Regions from separate parts of the Homo sapiens genome. Here regions 2, 3 and 4 are each linked to region 1. The links come from fine-mapping of genetic effects on gene expression. A gene starts in region 1. Each other region holds a variant in brackets. All regions are shown on one strand. Distances are between the middles of the regions. Region 1 holds the start of ANK1 (ankyrin 1). Region 2 overlaps ANK1 (ankyrin 1). Region 3 overlaps ANK1 (ankyrin 1). Region 4 overlaps ANK1 (ankyrin 1).

What was found. PIP is the estimated chance that this variant, and not a neighbour inherited with it, causes the effect.
Region 2: its variant is fine-mapped to the expression of ANK1 in tibial artery (GTEx, PIP above 0.99). The same link has a PIP of 0.9 or more in aorta and gastroesophageal junction.
Region 3: its variant is fine-mapped to the expression of ANK1 in esophagus mucosa (GTEx, PIP above 0.99). The same link has a PIP of 0.9 or more in nasal epithelium.
Region 4: its variant is fine-mapped to the expression of ANK1 in whole blood (INTERVAL, PIP above 0.99).

Annotation. Positions count from the first base shown.
Region 1 is chr8:41,794,644-41,799,643 of GRCh38, reverse strand. ANK1 (ankyrin 1) reads left to right here and starts at 2,022. Exons shown (of 43, transcript NM_000037.4): 1 at 2,022-2,132. The coding sequence starts at 2,106. It overlaps LOC105379392 (a long non-coding RNA gene), which reads right to left and starts at 1,866. Exons shown (of 3, transcript XR_949708.3): 1 at 1,265-1,866; 2 at 1-650. RefSeq lists an enhancer at 1-949.
Region 2 is chr8:41,770,689-41,775,688 of GRCh38, reverse strand. The region is part of intron 1 of ANK1 (ankyrin 1); the gene reads left to right. Among named protein-coding and RNA genes, the nearest start is that of ANK1, 24 kb to the left of the region's middle. The variant C/A (reference allele first, on the strand shown) is at 2,275.
Region 3 is chr8:41,662,794-41,667,793 of GRCh38, reverse strand. It overlaps ANK1 (ankyrin 1), which reads left to right. Exons shown (of 43, transcript NM_000037.4): 40 at 4,052-4,135. Among named protein-coding and RNA genes, the nearest start is that of MIR486-1, 4.8 kb to the right of the region's middle. The variant C/A (reference allele first, on the strand shown) is at 2,452.
Region 4 is chr8:41,650,485-41,657,995 of GRCh38, reverse strand. ANK1 (ankyrin 1) reads left to right here. Exons shown (of 43, transcript NM_000037.4): 43 at 2,243-4,771. It overlaps NKX6-3 (NK6 homeobox 3), which reads left to right and starts at 7,179. Exons shown (of 3, transcript NM_001364841.2): 1 at 7,179-7,511. The coding sequence starts at 7,504. RefSeq lists enhancers at 1,509-2,042, 3,869-4,662 and silencers at 3,842-4,181, 4,202-4,271, 4,292-4,341. The variant ACC/C (reference allele first, on the strand shown) is at 2,865.

The DNA of each region.
Region 1 (5,000 bases):
TGCCCACCGGAAGCACTGCACAAGGAACTAGCAGGATCCTAAGCTTTGGAATTATACTCTCTACCTACAGGATGTTTCCTACATCATGTGACACTCTGTGTTCATATGCTGGTGTTCTCTCTTCTGAGTGTGGGAACTCCAAAGAGAAAAATATTGTTCCTCCTCTTCCTTGGATGGTGAAACGGCTTCTAGCTTTCGTCACTCCTGCTGGTGACAACCACGGGTTCGTTCCAGAAGCCATTACTGAGCACTTGCTATGTTCTGAGTCAGCTAATATTTAAGCTTCATTCTTGCCCCTGAGTGGGGTGCATGCCACGCTGCCCCCTCATGAGTGAGCCTGGCCCAGTATGTGTTGCCAAGTGAGATCATCTGTCCTTCGGGGAGGCTGTCTGAAATCATGTCTAATGTGACCTGCTTCTTTTACATTTTTTAGCTTTCTGGCTCCCTCAAAACAAACAAACAACAACAACAACAACAACAAACAGCCATTGTTTTGAGTCCAAGTGCTTCAAAAGGCTCCTGCTTAAGGACTGTGCTGTGGTAGACATGGCGGTTCCTTCTAGCCCACATGTGGCCTAGAACTCTGTCAGCTCTGTCAGGCACTAGTCCCCGGGGAGATGGCCCAGCGTCCATGGGGTGCGCTCCAGCTGCTGTGGAAAACACAGACGGGTCATGAAGCTGATCTCGGTGGCATCTTTCCGCAGCAGCTGTGCCCTCATGGCAAGGCCAGTTTGGTGCTGCGGGAAAGCTCTAAAGCCAGATGGCGGCCTCGTCAGGGGACCTGGACCAGCGTGGGCCCAGCAGGAGGCCAAGCATCACGTGAGGAAGGCTGGAGAGACCCTTCTCAGGGAGGACTGCACCAGAGGCCCCCAGCGGTGACACCCACCCCTAGAGGAAACCATGGAGGGAGACAGCCCCCACCTTAATGGCACCACCCCCAGGGTCCAGGGAGGCTGCCATGCCCCTGGCCCCGCAGCTCAGCTCCTCGGGGTCACCTGTTCCCTCTGCCAGCCACCAACTGCCATTCCAGGATATGGTGTTCTCACTGATAAAGCCATTCTGGGCAGATGACATCTCATCCCGTTGTTGGACGGGCGGACGTTGCAAAAGGCGGCTTCCTAGGCCAGGCCTGCAGGAGCTTGGCCTGGGATGGTCCAGCCTGGCTGGTGGGCAGCCCCGACCTTCTGGCAGCTGCGGGACCGCCTGGGCGCCCCCCTGCCCGCGCCATCCCACGCCCTCCTAGCCGCTGTTTGCGGTGACTCACCTCGGTTCCCAGGAACGTTGTTATTTTTGGCCCTGGTGTTATTAAGATTGTGCCCAGATTCCCTGCAAATCGGCCACTAAGCAGCATGGGGCCCTAGTGAAAGCACGCGGAGAACAGAGGGGGCAGCGCGCTTCGGGAGGCTCCCCGGCCTTGGAGAGCTCCAGCCTCCCCGGGGGGCGGAGGGGCCGGCCAGAAGGACTCCTGCGCCCCACACCCGCAGCGCCGACAGGGCGTGCGCCCTGGCTCAGCGCTCCCCGACTGCTCCCAACCCAGGGGCACCCAGGGCCGAAGCTTCCTCTACAGAGCCTCCCCCTCCTTAGGAAACAAAACAAAACAAAACAAAAACCAGGAAAGGCAAATTGTGTAGATGCCACTAAAAAGAAATTCCCGCTTAGTATTGCTTCCCCTGCACCCAGCGACTTTTAGACAAGCAGAAGAGGAGATGCCCTGCCCGCGACTAAACCGGACTCCCTTTCATTTACTACCCTCTCAGCGTGTGGCCTGATGTCCAACTCTGGGCTCTGAACTCAGCTCTCCCCGGCTGCTCTCGACCCCGGGGCAACCAGGGGTCCGCGCCGGCCGAGGCCTGGGGAGCGGGGCCTCCTGGGGTTGGGGGAGGAGGTGCTCTTGTAATCTGCGGTCCCCAGGCGGGCGCCACCCCTCCGCCCGCCCGTGCCGGGAGCGCCCGGCCCGACAGCAAGCGCCTCTGGGGCCGATAAGGCCCTCGGGGGCCTGGCCCGCACGTCACAGGCCCCGCAGAGGCTGCGGTGAGTCCGCCAGCCCCAGCTGCTCCTCCTCAAGCCCCCAAGGCCCTTCGGCGGGCCCCTGCTGAAAGACCGGCATGCCCTATTCTGTGGGCTTCCGCGAAGTGAGTACTGGGCGGCTGCTCGGGTGGACGGGGAGATGTCAGGAGGGGGCCACCCAGGCCGCGCCAGTAGGCAGCACGCGAGCAAGAGCAGCTTTGCACACCCCACCCGCCTCGCCTCCCCGTGGGCTCCCTGCCTTAGCATAGCGGCACATCGACCTTGTAGCTGAAGGCAGCAGGTGGACTCTGCCCTACTCGCTGAAGCCAGTTTCATATTTTTTACATCCAGAGATTTGCTGTCAAATTGAGTTCCAACTACCTGGGTCTCTGAATTATGTCCTGTCAGCAATAGCGCTGGGGAGGGATGGTTTTTGGATTATAGTCCAAATCTATTGAGATCTTAGAGGCTTTCCTTTGAGTCTGCTAAACTGCGTTTTGTAGGTGTGTTATTACAGGCTGCGGGGTGGGCCACCCGGCTAGGGGGCTGTCACTGTCATTTGGAAGGGGACTTTGGCTTGTTTTCTCAAAGACTCACGGAGGCCGGTGGTCTCATGGTCACACCTGCTCGGTTCTTTTAATTTATGTTGTTAATTCATGGAGAGAAATATGTCTACGAAGGAAGGGAAAGAGCGGCGGCGTGGCCTGGGGAGATAGGCTCTCATGGATATTTTTCAAGTGATAATGGCGCGTTAGCAAGGCCACTCCAGCCTTCTTGTTCTCCCTGTGTAGATAGAACCCGTCCTATCTCTGCCTGGCAGCACGGCCAGCCTGTGCCATGTGTCAGTGTCCTTTGTTGGGTACGGTTCTTAGTTTAGTGATGGATTCAGAGCCCAGAGTTGGACATCAGGCCACACACACGCTGAAAGGGTAGTAAGTGAAAAGGAGTCTGGTTTAGTCGCGGGCAGGGCATTTCGTCTTCTGCTTGTCTAAAAGTCGCTGGGTGCAGAGGAAGCAATACTAAGCGGGAATTTCTTTTTAGTGGCATCTGTACAATTTGCCTTTCCTGGTTGATTTTTTTTTTTTTTCTAAGGAGAGAGAGGCTCTGTAGAGGAAGCTTGGGCCTCCCACTTTAGTTCCACCAGCGGCAAGCAATTCAGGTTAAGTTGGTAGAGTCTTTTTCCTCTTGTGGCACCACTCTAGGGCAGAGGTTCAGGGTGAGTCTTGGAGACCTGATCATAGCCAACTTTGGAAGGAGGCAGGTGACTGCAGGTGTCCCGTGCAATGTGTGAACTGTCTTCAGACTCAAACGCAAGTGTTTTGCAGGAATAAGGAATGGCCGATGGAAAAAATGGGTAAAATTAGCCTTCTTTCACAAATCAAGTTACAGCCTCAAGCCACTTTTCTCTGTGTCTCAGTTTTCTTGTCTGGGAAATGGGTCTGCTGTGAGGCTGAAGTGAGTTACTCGGTTATGAAAACATTAGCAAAGGGGACAGAGGCTTGAAGACGTTTATTGTAACCAGGATCCATAGACTCAACTCACCCTTGACTTTATGGGTCAATTATAATTAGTTTCTTCTCTGTTATTGGTATATAATAATTTACATATTTGTGGAATACATGTGAGTGTTTGTTTCATGCATAGAATGTGTACTGACCAAGACAGGGTATTTGGGGTGTCCATAGACTTGAATGTTTATCATTTTTACGTGTTGGTATCATTACAAGTCCTCTCTTCTGGTAACTTTGAAATGTACACGGTATTGTTGCTATTATAGTATAGTCACCCTAAGCTGCTATCAAACACCAGAACTTATTTCTTCTATCTAACTGTATGTTTGTACGCATAACCAATCTCTCTTCATTCTCTTGCCCCCCACCCACCCTTCCTGGTCTCTGGTATCTATTATTCTATTCTCTAGGTCCAAGAAATCAACTTTTTTAGCTCCTATGTATGACTGAGAACATTCAGTATTTGTCTTTCTGTGCCTCGCTTATTTCACTTAGCATAATGACCTCCAGTTACAACCACGTTGCTACAAATGACATGATTTCATTCTTTTTCGTGGCTCAAGCAGCTGTAATTAGTTTTTATATTTATTTATTTAATAATAATTATTATTATTTTTAAGACAGAGTCTCGCTCTGTTGCCCAGGCTGGAGTGCAGTGGTGTGATGTTGGCTCACTGCAACCTCTGCCTCCTGTATTCAAGCAATCCTCGTGCCTCAGCCTCCTGAGTAGCTGGGACTACAAGTGCGTGCCACCATGCTTGGATAATTTTTGTATTTTTAAGTCTCAGTCTCACCATGTTGGCCAGGCTGGTCTCGAACTCCTGACCTCAGGTGATCCACCCGCTTCAGCCTCCCAAAGTGCCGGCATTACAGGCGTGAGCCGCTGCGCCTGGCCTATAATAGTTTTTAAACCCAGGTTGCCACCTCTCACCCCAAAATGGTTCTGCCAGTGTCTCTGCAAAACCAGCTGACTTATTTTGAGATTAATCAAACTGCAATATATTTAGAAAAGCAGGGTTTCAGTTGTTGGTGTTGCCAAAATGAACAGAGAAAATAAGAGTGTTTTCTAAAGGTGAAGTGACTAAAAACCTTTGTCCTCCAGGTCTGTTTAACAACCTTTACGGCCAGGCACGGTGGCTCACGCCGGTAATCCCAGCACTTTGGGAGGCCAAGGCAGGTGGATCATGAGGTCAGGAGTTCGAGGCCAGCCTGGCCAATATGGTGAAACCCCGCCTCTGTTAAAAATAAAAAAAATTAGCCAGGCGTGGTGGCGTGTGCCTGTAGTCCCAGCTACTTAGGAGGCTGAGGCAGGAGAATCGCTTGAACCTGGGAGGTGGAGGTTGCAGTAAGCCGAGATGGTGCCACTGCACTCCAGCCTGGGTGACAGAGTGAGACTCTGCCTCAAAAACAAACAAACAAACAAACAAAAACCTTTAACAAGCATTTATGAAGCACCTATTGTGTATTAGGTCCTGTTGGGGC
Region 2 (5,000 bases), 24 kb after region 1:
AGGCTGGTCTCAAATTCCTGGCCTCAAGTGATATTCTTGCCTCAACCTCCCAAAGTGCTGGGATTACAGGCATAAGCCACCATGCCCTGCTAACTGTAGCTTTATTATTATTATCTTCAAATCAGTTCCCCCTTCCTGCTCTCACTTCTGTATCTCATTGTCTCTGCGGTGAATCATCATGGGCTAGAGGGTGTGGACGGGGCCTTCCAGGCCTAGTTCCCAATGGATGGTTCAAGGCTACCTTCTCCATGTAAGGGAAGCCTTGCTCCAGAGGCTGGACAAACTCCAGGGGCACAGACCCCAAATTTCAGGGTCACAAGCCCCTCTGGAATCTTGGGCAGGTCTCTCTGGCTGGCAATGGGCCACCCATCCTGGCTCTGTCCCTTGGGGCAAATTGTTCAAATAAAGGAGGAGTCTCAGGGTACCCCCTGGTCGGCCCCGCCTGCTCCAGATGGCAGCTTATATCAGGCAAAGTTGCATTTCTAAGGAAGGGTGGGAATCTTTCTTCATTGCTGAGGAAGAGCGTGCCATGCAGGGCTGTCCAACGCCTGGGCATCCTTCAGAAACTCTGGAGCCATGGGGTTCACTGCCAGTACTTAAGCCTGTTTGGCAACTTGAAAAAAAAAAGAAGAGTCCCTATTTTCCCTATTAGCACCTTCCCAATGATTTTGATTTTGCATTTTCTCCAGTATGTGCTCCTCCTCCTCGCATACCAGCAGGCCGCAGAGGAAGGTTTCCCTAATGTTTGGAAACACTGGAGGTAGTTTAGTAAATGGGCCCATTCTGGCAGTGCCGCTCATCCACATTTTCCAAAATGTGTGTAATTCCACTCTAGTCTCGGCTCCCCAGTCCACAATATGTTCTGAAGTGTCAATTCTAAATGCAGCCCATTCCTTGCGCAGTGGGGAAATGTGGCATGCTCTGCGGCGTGGGCCAGGGTGCTTGGTGATGCGGGTGCACTTGGAATTCTATTTAGGCACCCACAAGACACCCCAATATCTTCCCACCCTCAGCAGAAAGATGTGAACTATTGAAGAGCTGTCTGCTTCGCTGCCTTGGGACTGAGGAAACAATTGCTCTCTTGGGCTTGGACTGGCAATTTAGGACTAATGGAGATTGTGGGGAAAGGATGGGCAGGGCAGGTTGGGGTGTGGAGGCTTTTTTCTGCAGCACGGCCCTGGCCCTGGGATGGGAAGCACCTGAAACTTCCCTGCCCAGAAGAGGACAGTGGTCCCCAGGCTGTTTCTACAGGGGCTATAATAGCACGTGGGGACATTGACAATTTAGTCAACTAGCCCCGAACATCTGATTCATTTAGAAATCTGAGTTGACTGGATTCCAATCCAGCTAACGTTTATGGAGCCTCTGTTGTGCGGCCAGCATTGTGCTTAAACTCATGTCTGTTGTTTTCAGCATGACTGGTGGGAGCTCCTACCTGGTTGACATGGGGCACAAAACTGCATCATGTTCTGCTCAGGAAACATGTATTGAGTGGTGCTTCTGTGCTAGGCTTGGGGATTCTGAGTTGAGCGGAGATGAGAAGAGACCTCGTCTCCTACTTCCCTGCCCAGGGGGTCCTGGGTGGTCCCAGAACTATTCAGCAGAAGCATTTGCTTAATCTCAAGGCATTTTGTTCTTTAGGAATTCTGGTTCTATTTCTTATCCAAAAAGAGACACAGATACTGAAGCTGAAATTTGTTATTGTACATAAAACATTCTGTTCGCTTCATCTGGTTATTTGATGGGAAACAGTGGCGTTTGGATGCCTGTTTATTTCTCACTATTGGGAAAATAATCCTGTCCCCCGCAGGCTTGCCACTTGGGTCCACTCCCCATCCTTCTCCAGCACCGGGACTGGGTTTCTGGGGAGCTGGGCACCGTGGCCGTGGGGAACTTAGACTTTCCTTGGATCTTCCTGTTGTAGATTCTCGGCTGTGGGCTCTGCAGTGCATGCAGGAGGGAGCGGGGGTTCCAGAACATGTGATTTGAAAGTAGGAAGAAGGGGGAGATGCCGGATATATCAAAAGCACATGGAGTTTTCACACTGGGGGTAGAGGGATTTAAAAAAATCTCAATTCTGAAAAAGAGACCCGGTGTGCAAAACCCTTTCCAACTCACGAGCTCGTTAGGAGTCGAATTCCACCAAAGCCATGCCAAAGAGTGGGCCTGTAACCCAAGAGATCCCTTTGGAAGGACAGTCAATATCTGATCCCAGGAATAAGGGGAACCCCTGTGTGTGTGAAGAGAAAATCCTAGGTTCAGCTGTGCCTCCCC[C/A]CTTCCCTCCCTCCTCCAGGGATCTCGGGTTTAATGTTGGCCCTTTTTGGAATCCACACAGCACCTTTCTCATGGGTTTAAAAATAGACTCCAGGGCTGCCAACCCTCTTAAAAAGAACATGATGGAGATTGGTGCCAACTCTGTGGGGCCTGATCCGGGCTCTGATCACCTCCCTAAATAGACCCCCGCACTTGCCATCCCTTACTCCAGCCAGGCCGGGTGCCCAGGACACCTTAATTGACCACTGGGCACTCCCTACACAAAGTTAAATAGAAAAACAACCAAGACTCCATTCCTCTCTCCCTTTCTTCTGTCACTGCCATTAAGGTTAAGAAGGAATGACCAGGTTTAGGGGGGGTCAGGCTGGATTTCTGATTGAATTCAATGTGACATTTGTGTGGAACATTCTGTAAAGTTCCTTCCTAGTTAATAACATTTCCCCAACAGCGATGCTCCTGGTGGCTGACACACTCCCCAGGGTGGTCGCTGGCTGGGTCTGAGTGGCGATAAACCAGCCTGCCTTTCTCGGTAAAGGGTGGAGTTCCTGGTACCCACCCTTATCAGTGGTGCCCAGAGTCTCTAGGAGCAGGGGCGGCTCCTTGGGTGGGTGAGGATGGAACAGATGGAAGGAGGGTCAGGAGGAGAGCCCAACGGGTCAGCTGGCCACAGCCAGCAGCAGGACACTGCAAGGGCAGCTGCGGACAGGGAGCGTGGGGGCACAACTGAGTCCACACATTGTTTCTTTGCTGCAGAGAATATGGGCATTGAAAAGGGTGCATTGTAAGCCCAAGAGGTCTGGGTGCAGGGTAGAGCTTTGAGATTTCTTGGGATCCTGATCTTGACCATGGATGTTTGACCCTGGGTAAGCAGTGATGAGGCCTTGATTTTCCAGTGTTGAAGCAAGATCAGTGACAACCCACACCTCTGGGGGAGACATTAACCTTTGACAAAAGCTTTAGTCGAGAAGAAATGGAGGGGAGGAGGAAAAAAGAGCATCAGCTGTCATTGATAGAGCACTTACCAAATGTGCCAGAAGTGGTGGTCAGCATTTTACATTATTCTCCCAATATTGGAGAGATGGGTGAAGCTATTTTCACTTTACTGATGAAGAAATCAATGCTCAGAAAAGTCATTTCCTTTATCAAAAGCTGCACAGCTCAATTGTGGGAGACCTACTGATTTAGAGCCTCTTAAGAGGCTGTCCAGAAAGCAAATAGTGTTGTTGCTATTGAGTTCTGGGTTTGAGTTGATTGCATAGGAGGGTTAAGCGCGACGGTCATTGCCACAGGGCCTGAGCTGCCAGGATGCCCTTCTCTCGAATCCTGGGGCTGCCCTGATCTCAGCTCTGATGTCCCTGTAGAGAGGAGCCACTTCATGTCTCTGACTGGCCACCATTTGAAGCAGCCCGGACCTGTTCTCCCAAATCATCCTGGGGAGGCAGAGTCGCCTGAGAATCCCACTCGCATGGGATTCTTTGCTGCAGGCTTGTGTTCTTCCAGCTCGTGAAATCCCTGCAGGAATTGACAGCAGCAGCAGCCCATCAAGTGTCCCAGAGTCCCTGTCTATACTGAGAACAGCCCACTGCATCAAGCCAGGAGCGAGCTGGGGGTTTAAGTGCTGCATAGTCTATTTCTTCCCTTTCTTCTCTCCCACATCATCCCTGCTTGGCATAGCTGCATGTGGCCCAGAGGACAGAACCCCACAGGCGAGGCCTCCAGCTTTTCATTATGCTTGTCTGCAGAGAGACCTGCAAGGAGACAGTAGGTAAAATATTTAGCAAGACGGGAAAAGCCTGAAGACTCCATGAAGCTACAGGCTAGAACAGTGGCCTGTGTCTGCCGAGAGTCTTTAGCCTTTTCTTCAGCCCATCAATTCCTTTCTGGTGGTTTGTTTTGATCTCACTAGCAAGTTCTTAGCACACTAAATGCCTACGTTAAAACGTGCAGCCTTGAAGTATGAACAAAATGCAGATGGAGAAGCAGGATGATTATTTGTGGTCTAAGGGTGTGGTTGTGATGGAAGGTTGAGGGGACAGTCAGTTATGGGGAAAAGAACAATAGTTTAGCTTTCTGAATCCCTAGGGCCCAAAGAGACCCTTCCAAGTCGTACAGCTTACCCAGTGGTCTATATGCCAGATCAAATGTTGAGGTTTTTTTTTTCTGCCATCCTGAAGGATCTCCTGCAAAGATTAAACCCTTTCTGAATAAAGAGTTCTATTAAGTCACGTATCTCTTATAGCTGGAAAGTTCTTTCTGTGGAATCTAAATCTTTTCCATAGCAATTGAACCCCAAGACTTACAGTTTCTTTATGACTCATGGAAGTGTTGGGGACATCATTCTTCTAACACCAGTCAGTAATCACTGTGTTTAGCACTGCCCGGCACTGTGCCAGTCACATAGAGGAGTAGGTGGGGAAAGCAAGGGAGAGGGACTGGGAATTTGGAACATGAGAACCAAGCTGTCTCTGCCTGGGAGACATTTAGAATTCAGTCCTGGTGGCAGGCCACCACACCTGGGACTGGGCACCATATAATTAGCTCCAATGTGGCATTCCAGGCTGCAGTGCTGGAATTTATGTTTCAAGGGCTCTCTCCCTTAGCTTTATCATCTCAGCTCCTTTAGCCTCAGGCCTCACTGAGCAACATGTTTGTAGTTGTGTTCTTTCTCCTCCTCTTGGGCCTTGCCTGACTCATCGCCTGCCTAAGTTTTTCAAAGCCTCAACCCT
Region 3 (5,000 bases), 130 kb after region 1:
AAAGTTACTTGGCTCTGGAATTCTGTGGCTATTCACGTGGACTCTGGATGGCGGTCACCAAGTAGAAGAGGGGCCCTGGGATAGAGAGAAGTCTCCTCTCCTGCTCCTGATTTCCCAGGCCTCTCCCTCTCCTGGCCCTCCCTCCTTTCTTCCACTTCCCCGGATTCCCTTCGAGTTTGTTGAACTTTATTTTGTTCGATTCAATCCCCCTTCCCCATTCCCAGGCCCCATGATGATCTACTCGTGGCCAATCTTGTTTCATCTGCACCCCCCACTTTCTCCCACTGACTATTATTTGGAAGCATATCCTGGCCATCGTATTAATGGGTGTCTTTTCCATTTGTGTTCTTATAAAACATGCACCACTGTTCTCCACATGCGTGTGTTTAGTATGTACATGAACGACATGTTCTGTCTCTGTTTTCACGCCTCATCCAGGCATGGTGCTTCCTCCTCTCCTCTCCTTCCTCTCTTTCTTTCCTTGTCTCCCTTCTTTCCTACCTCAACCTTAGACTCCAGGACTAGGGTGGCTCTGGAAGGAAGGCCCTGAGCTGCCAGCCATAGAACTGCTAGGAATTCAGTCAGGTTTTATTTAGAATGCTCCCCTGCCAAGTATGTGCCCCGGGCAGGGCCAGCGCCTGTGTGCACTCCTCACCACAGGCGGCCCGTCCGTTTCTTCCATCAGGCCCTCCTGGGCGCCTAGTTCTCCTGCTCCCAGAGCACACATGATCTTAACTGGGTCTCTTCTCCTGAATCCCTGGGGAAAGAGAAAGACGCCTACAGCACTTTTTTCCACTGCCCCTCTGTGGTCAGCCTTTGGTGAGGGGAACTGGAAGGGCCTTCTAGATCACACATCCAACTCCCTCAATTATAAATGAGGGCACTGTGGACCAGAGGAGCCAAGGGCTTTCTCCAGGGTCACACAGTGGACCAATGTCAGGGACCAGGAGGGTCCAGATCCCTCAGTTCCCAAGCCCTACATCCTCACGTCCAGCATGCACGTGCAAGGCCAGCATGCCCAGCCTGGAACTGGAGACGCCGATCAGAGGGCCTGGCAGGCTGCTGCCGGTGCCCATCTCACAGGCCCCGAGGGCTGATAAGGATGCCCTTGAAGGTGATTGATGGTTTGCAAAGCACCCACTTATTAGTATTTCCACTGGACCTCTGAAAACAGTGATGGAGATAGAGAGATTGCATGTAACTTGGGACTTGGGAGGTGGCCTGAAATGACTGTGACCCAGCTGATTTCTCTGAGGACTTAGGAGGAAATATCTGAAGTTGGACTCTTCTTGACTGGGCCAAAACCAGATGCTTCCCCGGCTTCTTTGCACATACTTTTCCCCGTGCTTTCTTGTTGAAATAAGCAGCATTGTGGAGTGAGAGGCATTTGGAATGTGACTCCTCCGTTTACTTACTCCTCCACCTAGGCAGAATACTTTGCTTCTGTTTCCTTTGTGTAAAATGGGAAGACGATAGAACCTCCTTGGTTAGGACTGTGGTGAGGTGTCAGTGAATTAATGCGAAATCCACATAGAACCATGCACTATCACAAGCGTTTGCCATTATCATTCATAGTGTTAGCATTCATAAGCGGCATGATTGTCCCAGCAGCCTTGAGAAAGGGTGGGGAGAGCACTTTAATCCGTGCTTCACAGATGAGGAAACTGAGGCACAGAGAAGGTCCCCAGCCTTCCCAAGACCCCACAGTAGGTGAGTTGCAGGGTTAGTCTGCTGTGTCCCAGATCTGTGTTCTTTCTGCCATGCTGCATTGCCACTCAGAGAGGAACAACCTGATCTAGAAAGTGAAATTTTTTCCAGCCGCAGCTGCTGCGGCTACATTTGTGAATCAGCTCTGTAAATACAAGTTTAATACGCGTTGTTCCTGCTCAGTGGGCGTTGATAGCCCAGCCCTGGAAGAGCCTTTAAGAACAGGCCTTAAATAGACACACCAGCTCCATGCTTCAGTTTTGGGAGGCTGTACCCCATAAAGGAAGGGTGCAAGGGCCTGTGGGCTGACAGGAATTACAGACCGGCTTCCAGGTGGCCCCACCACCTGTGCTGGGCCCCTGCTGGGCTCACTTGACTGTCCCTGAGCCCATCACTCACCCTTTTGGAGCAATTTTTGAAACAGACCGCTAAGTACCCAGGGTATTAGCTGGTCTCATCCCTACCATGCCGGGGAACAGCATTTGGATCACCGCAGTAGCAGCCCAAGGAGACACACAAGTAGCTGCTTTCTCGGACTGTATTATTTTCTGAAAGTAAGAAACTTTCCCTGGGCAGAACTCTTTCTAGTTCCCATGGGGATGGGCAGGATAGGTGAGAGGCCGAGCCCCCACTTCCAGGTCTCTGGGCAGGGCGGGGTTAGGCAGCAGCGGGTGTCACTCACACAGTGACTTTCACTTGTGCTTTCAGTGCTCAGGACATGGGCACCTGCCGGCTTCCTTCTAG[C/A]CCGGTTGGACAGCTCCGGCAGCTGGTTTGGGGAGGTAAAATTATAGGAGCGTGATGTCACCCGGGCCACTCAGGGCAGAGCCTGGCTGCTGGGCAGAAGGGCACTTGGGCCGGGCTGCTTCAGCCGAGAGGGCCATTCGGTGTCCTGCCCACAGAGAGAGAAACAGTGAGAGACCAAGAGAGCAAACCAGAGAGATAGGGAGGGGGAATGCAAGGGGTCCCTGGGGGACTCAGGAGTCCCAGTGGAGAATGAGAGGCAGGCCCCCCGTGGTGGCCGGGGCCCTGGCTGCCAGAGGACCGGGCTGGTGAGGAGGCGAGGATGTGGACTTTCGTCACCCAGCTGTTGGTCACGCTGGTGCTGCTGAGCTTCTTCCTGGTCAGCTGTCAGAACGTGATGCACATTGTCAGGGGGTCCCTGTGCTTTGTGCTAAAGCACATCCACCAGGAGCTGGACAAGGAGCTGGGGGAGAGCGAGGGCCTCAGTGACGACGAGGAGACCATCTCCACCAGGGTGGTCCGGCGGCGGGTCTTCCTGAAGGTAACCGCCTGGCAGGAGGCCGGCAGGGCTGGTGGTGTGGGCGCCGGAGGCCGGGGCTGAGGGGACGCTGCTGTGGGGAGCTCCGGACCCAGAGTTGGGAGACGCCGGAGGAAAAGGACCAGGAGGCCCCCAGGGATCATGTTCCACCCTGGGAGCCAGAGTGTGTGTGCGCCCACCAGAACCTGCCCTCTGGTGCCCAGTGCATTGTGACAGTGACATTAAACACTCAGCTTTGGGTCTCGGGAGGCTGCGCTCATCCTGTTTCTTTCTTTGTTTCTTTCTTCTTTCTCTCTCTTCTCTTCTCTTTTTTCTTTTGTTTTTAGAGATGAAGTCTTGCTGTTTAGTCCAGGCTGGAGTGCAGTGGCATGCTCATGGCTCACTGTAACCTGGGCTTACTGTAAATTCCTGGGCTCAAGTGATCCTCCTGCCTCAGCCTTCTGAGTAGCTGGTACTACAGGCACACACCACCATGCCTGGCTATTTTAAAAAAATTTTTGTAGAGATGGGGGCTCGCTATGTTGCCCAAATTGGTCTTGAACTCCTGGGCTCAAGTGGTCCTCCGGCCTTGGCCTCCCAAAGTGCTGGGATAGCAGGCGTGAGCCACCATGGGATTGCACCCGGATCGTCCTGTTTCTGTCACCAACTGGCTCTGGGGTTTCAAGCAAGTCACATTCTGGGTGATGCTGCCTGTCGAAGGGCTTTTCTATACTGCAAAGTGCTGTAAAAATAGGAAACAGGTGCCTCACTTCCTCTCTCAGGGCCTCCTCCGTCAGACTTGCATAATTGCCCCCATTTTGCAGGTTCCCAGGGGGTGTTGTGAGGGCCAAGTGCACAATTGTGAGCTCGACCGTTCGTCTTCAGGCCTCCCAGACCCTCAGGGGCGCCGCCCACGCCCTGGGAGCCCTGGCATGGCTCCTGCTACATGCTGAGCCGGGTTTCCTGCTGGGGGAGTTATTGGGCCATGGCTATTGTGGCTACTGCTGTTTCATTTCCTCGTCCTCCACCCTTCCTCCCAGACTCCCACTCACCAATCTTGCATTTTCTCCCTTTCTCTAATTCCAGGGGAATGAGTTTCAGAATATTCCAGGGGAGCAGGTGACAGAGGAGCAATTCACGGATGAGCAGGGCAACATTGTCACCAAGAAGGTGGGTGCAGAGTGTTCCCCTCTGTGCTGGGGAGAGGCAGGTGGGCTAGAAGCTAAAAGGTGGTAGAAGCCAGTGGCTTCTCCCTGCTGCCCTCACAGCAGGTGAGCACAGCCAGGCTGGCTGCCCCCGTGCTCAGGAGGGATGGAGGGCCCAGGAGCTGGGAGCTTTGGTCATCTGCAGTCCAGTCATGGTGTCCTCACAACCGCTTTGTCTGAGTCAACCTGAATAGCTTCTGCTGCTCTTTTCCAGAAGGGCCAGCCCCCAGGAAACATCCCAGACCTAGTCCCATGATGCCTAACCCTGAAAACAGCTGTTAAACAAGCAGTTTGAGCATCCCTGGCCTACCATGGGCCTCCTCAAATAAAAAGAATGTGGGCCGGGTGTGCTGGCTCACACCTGTGATCCCAGCACTTTGGGAGGCCAAGGCAGGAGGATCGCTTGAGCCCAGACATTTAGACCAGCCTGGGCAATATGGCAAGACTCCATCTCTAAAAAAAATTTTAAAAAATAAATAAATACACACACACACACACACACACACACAGAGAGAGAGAGAGAGACACACACACACACAAAATTAGCCAGGCATGGTGGCGCATGCCTGTAGTCACAGCTACTCAGGAAGCTGAGGCAGAAGGATCACTTAAACCCAGCAGTTCAAGTCTGCATAAGCTATGATTGAGCCACTGCACTCCAGCCTGGGTGACAGAGTGAGACCCCATCACAATAATTAAATAATTAAAAGGAAGTGAAAATGCATTGGATTGGTAGCAGATATTAACTCAGAGACATGACCTTGCCTGTCAAGTGTGGGGCACGGTGCTAGCTATGGGTAAAATAGAGGAGGAGCTGAGGCAGGATCTCG
Region 4 (7,511 bases), 140 kb after region 1:
GTGGGAGGATCGCTTGAGCCCAGGAGTTCAAGGCTGCAGTGAGCTATGATTATACCACTGCACGCTAGCCTGGGCAACAGGGCAAGACTCTGTCTCTAAATGAAATAAAAATAAAGAATGAAAGAGACTCTTTTCTAAGCTTTTGAAAGGTGAGGGGACCCAGGAGAAGAGGCCAGAACAATGCAGGAGTCCTGGGCAGAGTGAGGTGGCCTAGGTCCTCATCTCACCCCTGCTCTTGCCACTGTGCCTCTAGAGTCTCAGTTTACCAAGGGATGAAATGGGCAGTCATGCCAGCATGATCTCTGAGGTCTGAACTTTCTCTTCTGCTCAGTGCCTGGGCGGTAAAGTAGATGGGAGATCCTAGCCTGTCTTTCCCAGGCTGCATATTCCATGATGGTCTCTTATTTGAGGAGCACTTCTTGGGGCAGGCACCGTGGGGAGCACCAGGAGGCTGTTCTTGCCCTCAGTGTTTCTAATCTAGTCAGGGAAATATGCAGACATCAAAAAGCACAGATGGACAGAGACGGTAACATTTCTAGAGAGCCAAGTAATTGTTTGCATTCATACAATGCTAAGCACCTATGTGTCTTAGCTTTTTTAAACATCACACCTCTCTAATGGGTAGGCCCTATTACTGCCCTCATTTTACAGCAGAGAAAACTGACTCACAGAGCAGGTAAGGCACTTGACCGAGGTCAGGCAGCATGGGACTTGAACCCGGGTGGTCTGGCTCCAGAGTTCATGCTCTTACCCACTCGACTCTGCCATCTCCTGAACAGAAAAGGCAGCTTTTTTCTTTTTTGTATTTTGTATTTTTACAAAATACAAAAGGGAGAGCTTCCAGAGTGGAGAGGGGCCTGCTCCAGGAAGGATCAGGAAGGTTTTGTGGGGTGGAGGTGTTGAGGGCGGCAGGCAGAACCTCTGCAGAAAAGAGAATGGAAGGCAGCCTTGACAGAAGCGTGACCGAAGGCAGAGAACAGGAGGGTAGAGCGTGTTCAGAGGCTTAGAGGAGACAGTCAGACTTGGCCGATGTGATGGCCCAGCAGTGATGAAAGCATCTTCCCTCTACGGTGGCAGCACTGTCCACCCACTGCAGCAGCAGTTCCTGGCTTTACAGTTCTACAGCAGCCCCTGGCAAGGAACCTGGCACCACCCTCCCATCCCTGGGGAACCACCCAAGAGCTGAGTTCTCCCTACTCCCTTCCAACACTCCTCCCCAACCCCTTCACCTGGAGGACCCAAAACAGCTCTATGTCTGGGGATGGCTCCACCTCCGAATGAGCTCCTGCCTCCCTGTGTCACTTCCCACCCTGCCCAAGAGATTGTCACCTCCTCCTTATTGAAGCATCCTCCTTTCCCCAGTGGTCCCAGGGCCCCTGCAGATAGAACATGAGTGGCTGGTCTTGAAAACATGGAGTTTTCACCCCAGGTTGGAGGCTGGAGGCCCCATGGGGGCAGGAGAGGTTTCTCACTGCGAATCCCAGGCTGAAGAATGTGGGCTTAGTTCCTCCAGCAAAGCTGCTCTTTTCCAGCCTAAGACTCAATACAGGAGGAGGAGAGGAGGATGCATCTGCTTTTCAGAGATCTCTGTCCATCTGAGGGGCATGGGGAGAGCAGCCAGAGGCAGCGGTCAGGAAGTGCTGTGGGCCAGAGCTGAAGGGGAGCTGTCACCCTTGAGGCATGAGCTCCCAAGGCCAGGGAGCACATCCGCTCCATCCCTGGGTTCCCAAGGCTGGCGCATGGCGGACATCAGTGCATGTTGGCAGAGCTGAACTGAGAAAGTGAAGGCCTCACCTAGCCTCACCTAGCCCCTTCTTGGCACAAGCCCTGGCTCAAGAAAAATGGCTCTTCCTAAGTACAAGGATCTGCTGGGGGATGTCTCCCCAGGTGACCACGTAGGCACGGGGGCCTCTGCCCCTCTCCAAGGGCACAGAGCACAGTGCTCTCCTTGGCCCATACAGAGAGGCATCCTGGAACACTTGCACACTCAGAAGGAATTCATGAGGCCTGGGTGGCGGCTCTGAGGAACAGCCTCTGCATAGGGAGCAAGAGAAGGAGGGCGGCATCTCAGGAAGTCGGGCTGCAAGTGCAGCACCCTCAGCACATCGCCCTGCCTGGGGAGACTGCTTTTCCTGAGTCAGATTCGGCCTGAGCTGCCAGCACAAAACTCTGTGTGTGGGGTTTTTGCTGGACGTTGCACTTTTGCATTCTAAGTGACTCCTTCTCTCTTTGTGTCTCCCAGGATCACACCTCGACACCCAACCCCTGAACCCCACACACTCTGCCATGCACACAGGAGGAGAGCTGGACCTGAGGGCCACCGCAGCGGTGCACACATTCCTCTGGGCTGACGGCATGACCTCTGTAAGGGACTCCTGCTAGTCCCCTCTTGGCATGAATGACTGACTGTAGACGCATGACCTCCAGGCTTCAATCCTGCCTCTTGCAATGACAGCTGATCTGTCGGAACCAGGACACAAAAGCAGCAAGAAGCGGGGAGAGAGAGGGATAGAAAACAAGCGCAGGAGAGCCTGCGAACGCAAAAGTGAATGAGGGCTTTTTGTGGCTGGGGATGGGTTTTGGTTTTGGGGTTTTTTTTTTAAATTGTTTTGACTTCGTACAGGGTACTTTTTCCCAACCTCATCTGTCAGAAATCCATGTGGGCTTCCTGGAAAGAAAAAAAAAAAAAAGAAAACTAGGCATGAAATCAGTTTAACACCTTAATCTTAAGCCATGTCCTCATCTGCCCACCCTCCCCAACCCACATACCTCCATTCCACTTGTGACACCCCCTCGACTCCCTGGTGACGCTCCTCCCAGATCGCTCTACATGACATTCAGGACACACACACACACACACACAC[ACC/C]ACTCGCCTCCACTGAATCTACACACAGATTTTACTGTGACTTCTGAAGCTGTATAGACTCTGCTGTGGATAAATTGGAATTTTTTATGTTGTCTCTCTCTCTGCCAATTTCAATACGAATCATCTTCCAATGGAAAATCATTACCTTGAAGAGTGCATTCGGGGTTCCTTGTGTTAGGGACTTAAGAATCTGAGGCGAGGACCCCCAGGCTTACCTGTAGGACTCAAAGGGAGCCAGGACCCCATCTGAAAGGGTCTCCTCTCTCAGTTGGGGGACAGGCCGGTGGCTGACCCAGGATTGCACCAGCATGTCCATAGAGAAGAGGTTTTCTATGTCTTCAAGCACTATATCATAGTCCGTGTTCAAAGTGTAAACTGTACAGTAATCAGCCTTGTGTATATGAAAAACAATAAATACTATGCAAACCAATAGAAACATTTAGCAGTACGTACAGAGCCTGACAGCGCAGCTCCTGAGGACTTCTGCGGCTGCAGGAGAAGGAGCTGTGGCCTGTCTTTCAGTGAAAGAGGAAGGAAAGGAGTAGGGCTAGTGAATGTATCTGCCAGGTCTTAGAAGTCAGGACCACCCAGGGTCTCCCAGAGTGAACTTGGTGCTCTAAGTCCAGGCAGCCTGCAGGCTGGGGACCCTGGGTGCAGGTGCCAGGCTCGAGGCTGTTCCCTGTCCTGCCTCAGTGCCTCCCCTCTGCCCAGCCCCTGTGGCCTCTTGGAGAGGCGAGCCAGGGGGCTCCCCGGACCGCATGGCCGGTGAGAGTAGAGTCGGAGGCGGAGAGCCTGGACGCCCAGAGGCCGGGGCCAGGCTCTGGGTCAAGGCAGGAAGGAGACAGACAGCTGGCAGTTCCTCGCCTCGGTGCCATCAGGGAGGAGCCTTAAGTTCCACTAGAGCCTCCGGCCCAGGGAGGCCAGAATCAGCACAATCCCGGCCCCGCCCTCGCGGCGGGCGCCCCCAGGGCCAGGAGAGAGAGACAGGGCTGGCTCCTCTCGCCCCTGGAGCCGCGGTGTGGACGGCCCGGCCCCGTCCGCCCCGCCGCTCTGCGGGAGTGTCCTCGGGACACACTTAAACCTTCCAAGTAGCACAGAAGCCCCCTCCACGTCAGAGGCCCCCTGGCCGCGGGGCCTGTGAGCGGAGAGGGGCCCTGCTTCCCACACAAATCCGCCCCGGTGCACCCCCGGCCAGGCAGGCCCCGGGGCGGCCTAGGCGCCTTGTCGGCCGGGGGTGGGGCTGCTTTTGCTTCCTTTAGAGGGGCGGGCAGGGAGAGGAAGCTCTAGCTCCGGGCCTGAGTTTCCCCGAGGCTGCGTCGGAGGAGCTGCAGGGCGAGCCCGGACGGCTGCCGTCTCCGCCAGAGGCCACCCCGGCCCGGCCTCCAGGGCGCAGAGGCGCCCCCCTCCATCCTCCCCCATCCCGGGGGCCACGGCAGGGGGGCCGCACAGCGCGGCTGGGACCGATTCGGTGACGGCCCAAGGAAGCTGGGCTCAGGGCTCGCCTCTCCCGCCTCGATCCTGCACCTTCCTCTCCCAGGTCGCTGCTGCAGCCAACCCAGTAGCCCCCTTAGCGCCCCCGCGGACCCCGCAGCTCCAGACTCCGCTTTGGCACCTCTGCTCCGGCTGGCATGGCTGCACGCTCCGGCTGCTAGTAGGAGCCGTTAGGGGAGGAGTTTGGGGTCTCCACACGATGCCTAGAGAATGCTGCAGTCTGCACATTAGACGCTTTTTAGAAGTTTTGAAATTACCTTGATTTTTTTAATTGTTATGAAAATGGATCTTTTCTTGACTCTCCCACATGCTCTGTTATGGGAGAGAATCCCCTACCCTACTCTGATGTATAGACCATTCTCCCTTCACCAGCCGAACCAATGTCAAAATTAATAAAGAAATGGACTAATGGCACAGGGCTCTATCTCTCCTTCCCGCTCGTCTTTGGGGGGTTAGGGGTGCTGAGGCCAGCGTAAAGCCTGGGTTGTGATGTGAAGGAGTCTATGGGTGGGGCTCAGGTCCCAGAGAGCCCGCCAATGCCCAGTCCTCCCAGAAGCCTGGACAACCCTTTAATCAGGACCACCCACCTGAGAGATGCCTCCAGAGAGGTGGCAGAGTAGCTTTCTGTTCCACCTGATGGCTCCCATGAGATGGGGAGAAGTTGGGGGTCTGGGGAGGGGCCACCACAACCCACCAGGGTTCTTGGCCAGGCCCCCAGCTGGCATGCACTGAGGGGGCCCCCCAGCATTCCCTAGGAAGGCATCTGGCCCCAGTACTCAATGCCATTCAAAGTTCAAGAACTTGTTCTTGCTGTAGGGAAAAAATTGCCCTATTCCTAACTAGTTGCTAACACTTCCTGCAAGGCTGGTCACCAAGCTGACCTCAGTTTCCTCATCTCTCTAATGGGAGAATGGATTAGGTGGTTGCTAAAGTCTCTTCAGTTTCTCATCCTAGGGGCGCCAGACACCAACGCCTTTGTCAGGCTTGGCATTAATTAAGAATCAAATCATTGGCTGCGGCTTTCCTGCCACATAAATTCCCATCATGAGGGGATGACGGAGTCACAATCCCAAGGCCCCTGGAGCACCCCAGCCCCACCCCACTCCCAGCCTCTCTCCTGGAATCGGACAGGCCGTTCAGGCCAGTGGGCAACCGCAGCAGGTCATCTGCAGCACCCATGGGGCTTTTAAAAATGCAGTTTCAGAATCACAGTTGCCTGGGGGGAATTGGGTGGTGACACCGGGAACCAGAACCAGGTCTACCAGATGGCTGTGGCACGCGACCTGGTGGCAAAGCCATCTCAGACGAAGACGTAGCTCTTTTCTCTTTAAACCAAATTTGTAGGGAATCATTCCACACCCTTTGTGAGATCTTTCTTGCATAACCTAAATCCCTGTGCTACAGAGGGTCAACTTCTGCATGAGAAGGAATCCTGCCCTGAGCCTTGGGTCCTCTGCTCCCCACTGAAAACCAAGACGGCCTGGAAACCCAGGAGAAGCTCAGTGAAGCAGTGCCTCTAGTCTCCCACCTACCAGGGCGGCCTCTGGGGAGTGAGAGAGCAAGCCCTGCAGAGCCCACGCCTGGTCAGGAAGGGCTCTGGGGCCACCAGGCACAGAGAGGAGCAGAAGTCCATCTGTCTGGCAGTCACAGTCTTTCCTAGCATTTTACATGTTCAGGCCAGTGGCATGCTAGTTTCCAGTTTTAGAGAAAAACTGCAGGGAAGAATCCTGCCTGGTCCAGAAATCACCCATGTACCTGGAAAGTGGGCTCCAATTCCTCTATACCTTGGTTTTCCTGTTTGTAAAATGAGAGCTTCCCCCAATAGAGCCTTGTATGTTGTAAAAATTTATTCGAGAAAAAAAAAAGCATATGCATGTTCTGTGATTCAGCCCAGTCCACTGCATCAACTACTAACTGAGCACCGACGGAGTGCCCGGCACGGGGCTCCACCACCCTCTCAGCCATCAGGGATTTCAAACCCGGGCACCACGCCAGACAGAGCATGGCCATTGCTCCAGCAGAGGCACAAATGAGGAAGAGATTCTGATAGGGAGGTCACGGAAGGCCGACCAGAGGTGGAGGCAAGAACATGCGTGCAGGGCGGCCCTCTCTTCAGCCTCCTGCAGTTGGAGGACTCACACCCCGGCACTGTCAGGGCTGCCTACGCCCCGCGCTGCCCTCTTCCCAGCAGGCTCCCACCCTAGGCTCTCAAGCCAGCCACAGGGACTTGCATCCCCCAGAAAGCAATGCCACTCAGCCTCTTACCCCATCCCCGCACTTACCCCCATCTTATGCCACTTACCCCATCCCCGCATGCGGAAGGGAAGGAAGCGGCTGCGTTCTCCTGTGGAGCTTGGACATGTGCACATAAAGGGGCCGGCGCAGCTCCGGACAGTGGCCTCTGAGTCCAGCCTCCTCTTCCCTAGGGGAGCAGCTGTAGGAACAGTGACTTCCAATTGCCTTGGGAGCCTCCAGGGGCCCCCAGACGCTCACCTTTTCCTAGATGCTAGACTTGCGGGGAGCAAATGGACCCTCCGGCGATGAGTAGGGCTTCTAGAGCTAATTCTCTGTCTCTCTCTCGCGCGCGCGCGCATACACACACACACACACGCGCGCGCGCGCGCGCGCGCGCACACACACACACACACACCCTGGCTGATTGTACAGTCAATCTTTCAAAGTGCAATTTGTCTAGGAAAAGCCAATGTGAGGCCCGTGTGCGCCCCGACCAATGGCGGCGCGGCTCCGGCGGCTCAGCCAGTCTCCGGCCTGTATTCTAATGGGCCGTATCTTTATCAGGGAAATGTTCCTTCTCTGAACTTAAAACTTCTCATGGAGGGTCCCCCGACTCAGAGGCAGAAAGGGGGTCTGAGCTGAGGCTTAGGGGGCCACCCTGTCCGGCCAGGGCAAGGAGAGAGGCCAGGAGCCCTGGGGAGGCCTCCCACCTGCCCCGAGCACCTGACTTCCGAGCAGCTGATCGGGTGCCGGTTCCTGGGCCAGGGCCTGGCCCATGCCTTAGGTGGGAGGCAGTCAGGAGCTCGGAGACGGTCCTAAGCCTCCAGGCCTGCCATGAGATTTGGGGCTAGAGAGTGGGCTCTTGGGTTTTAGGGGCCTGGAGAAGCCTTCCCTGTCCTGACTGGGAGATCATGGAGTC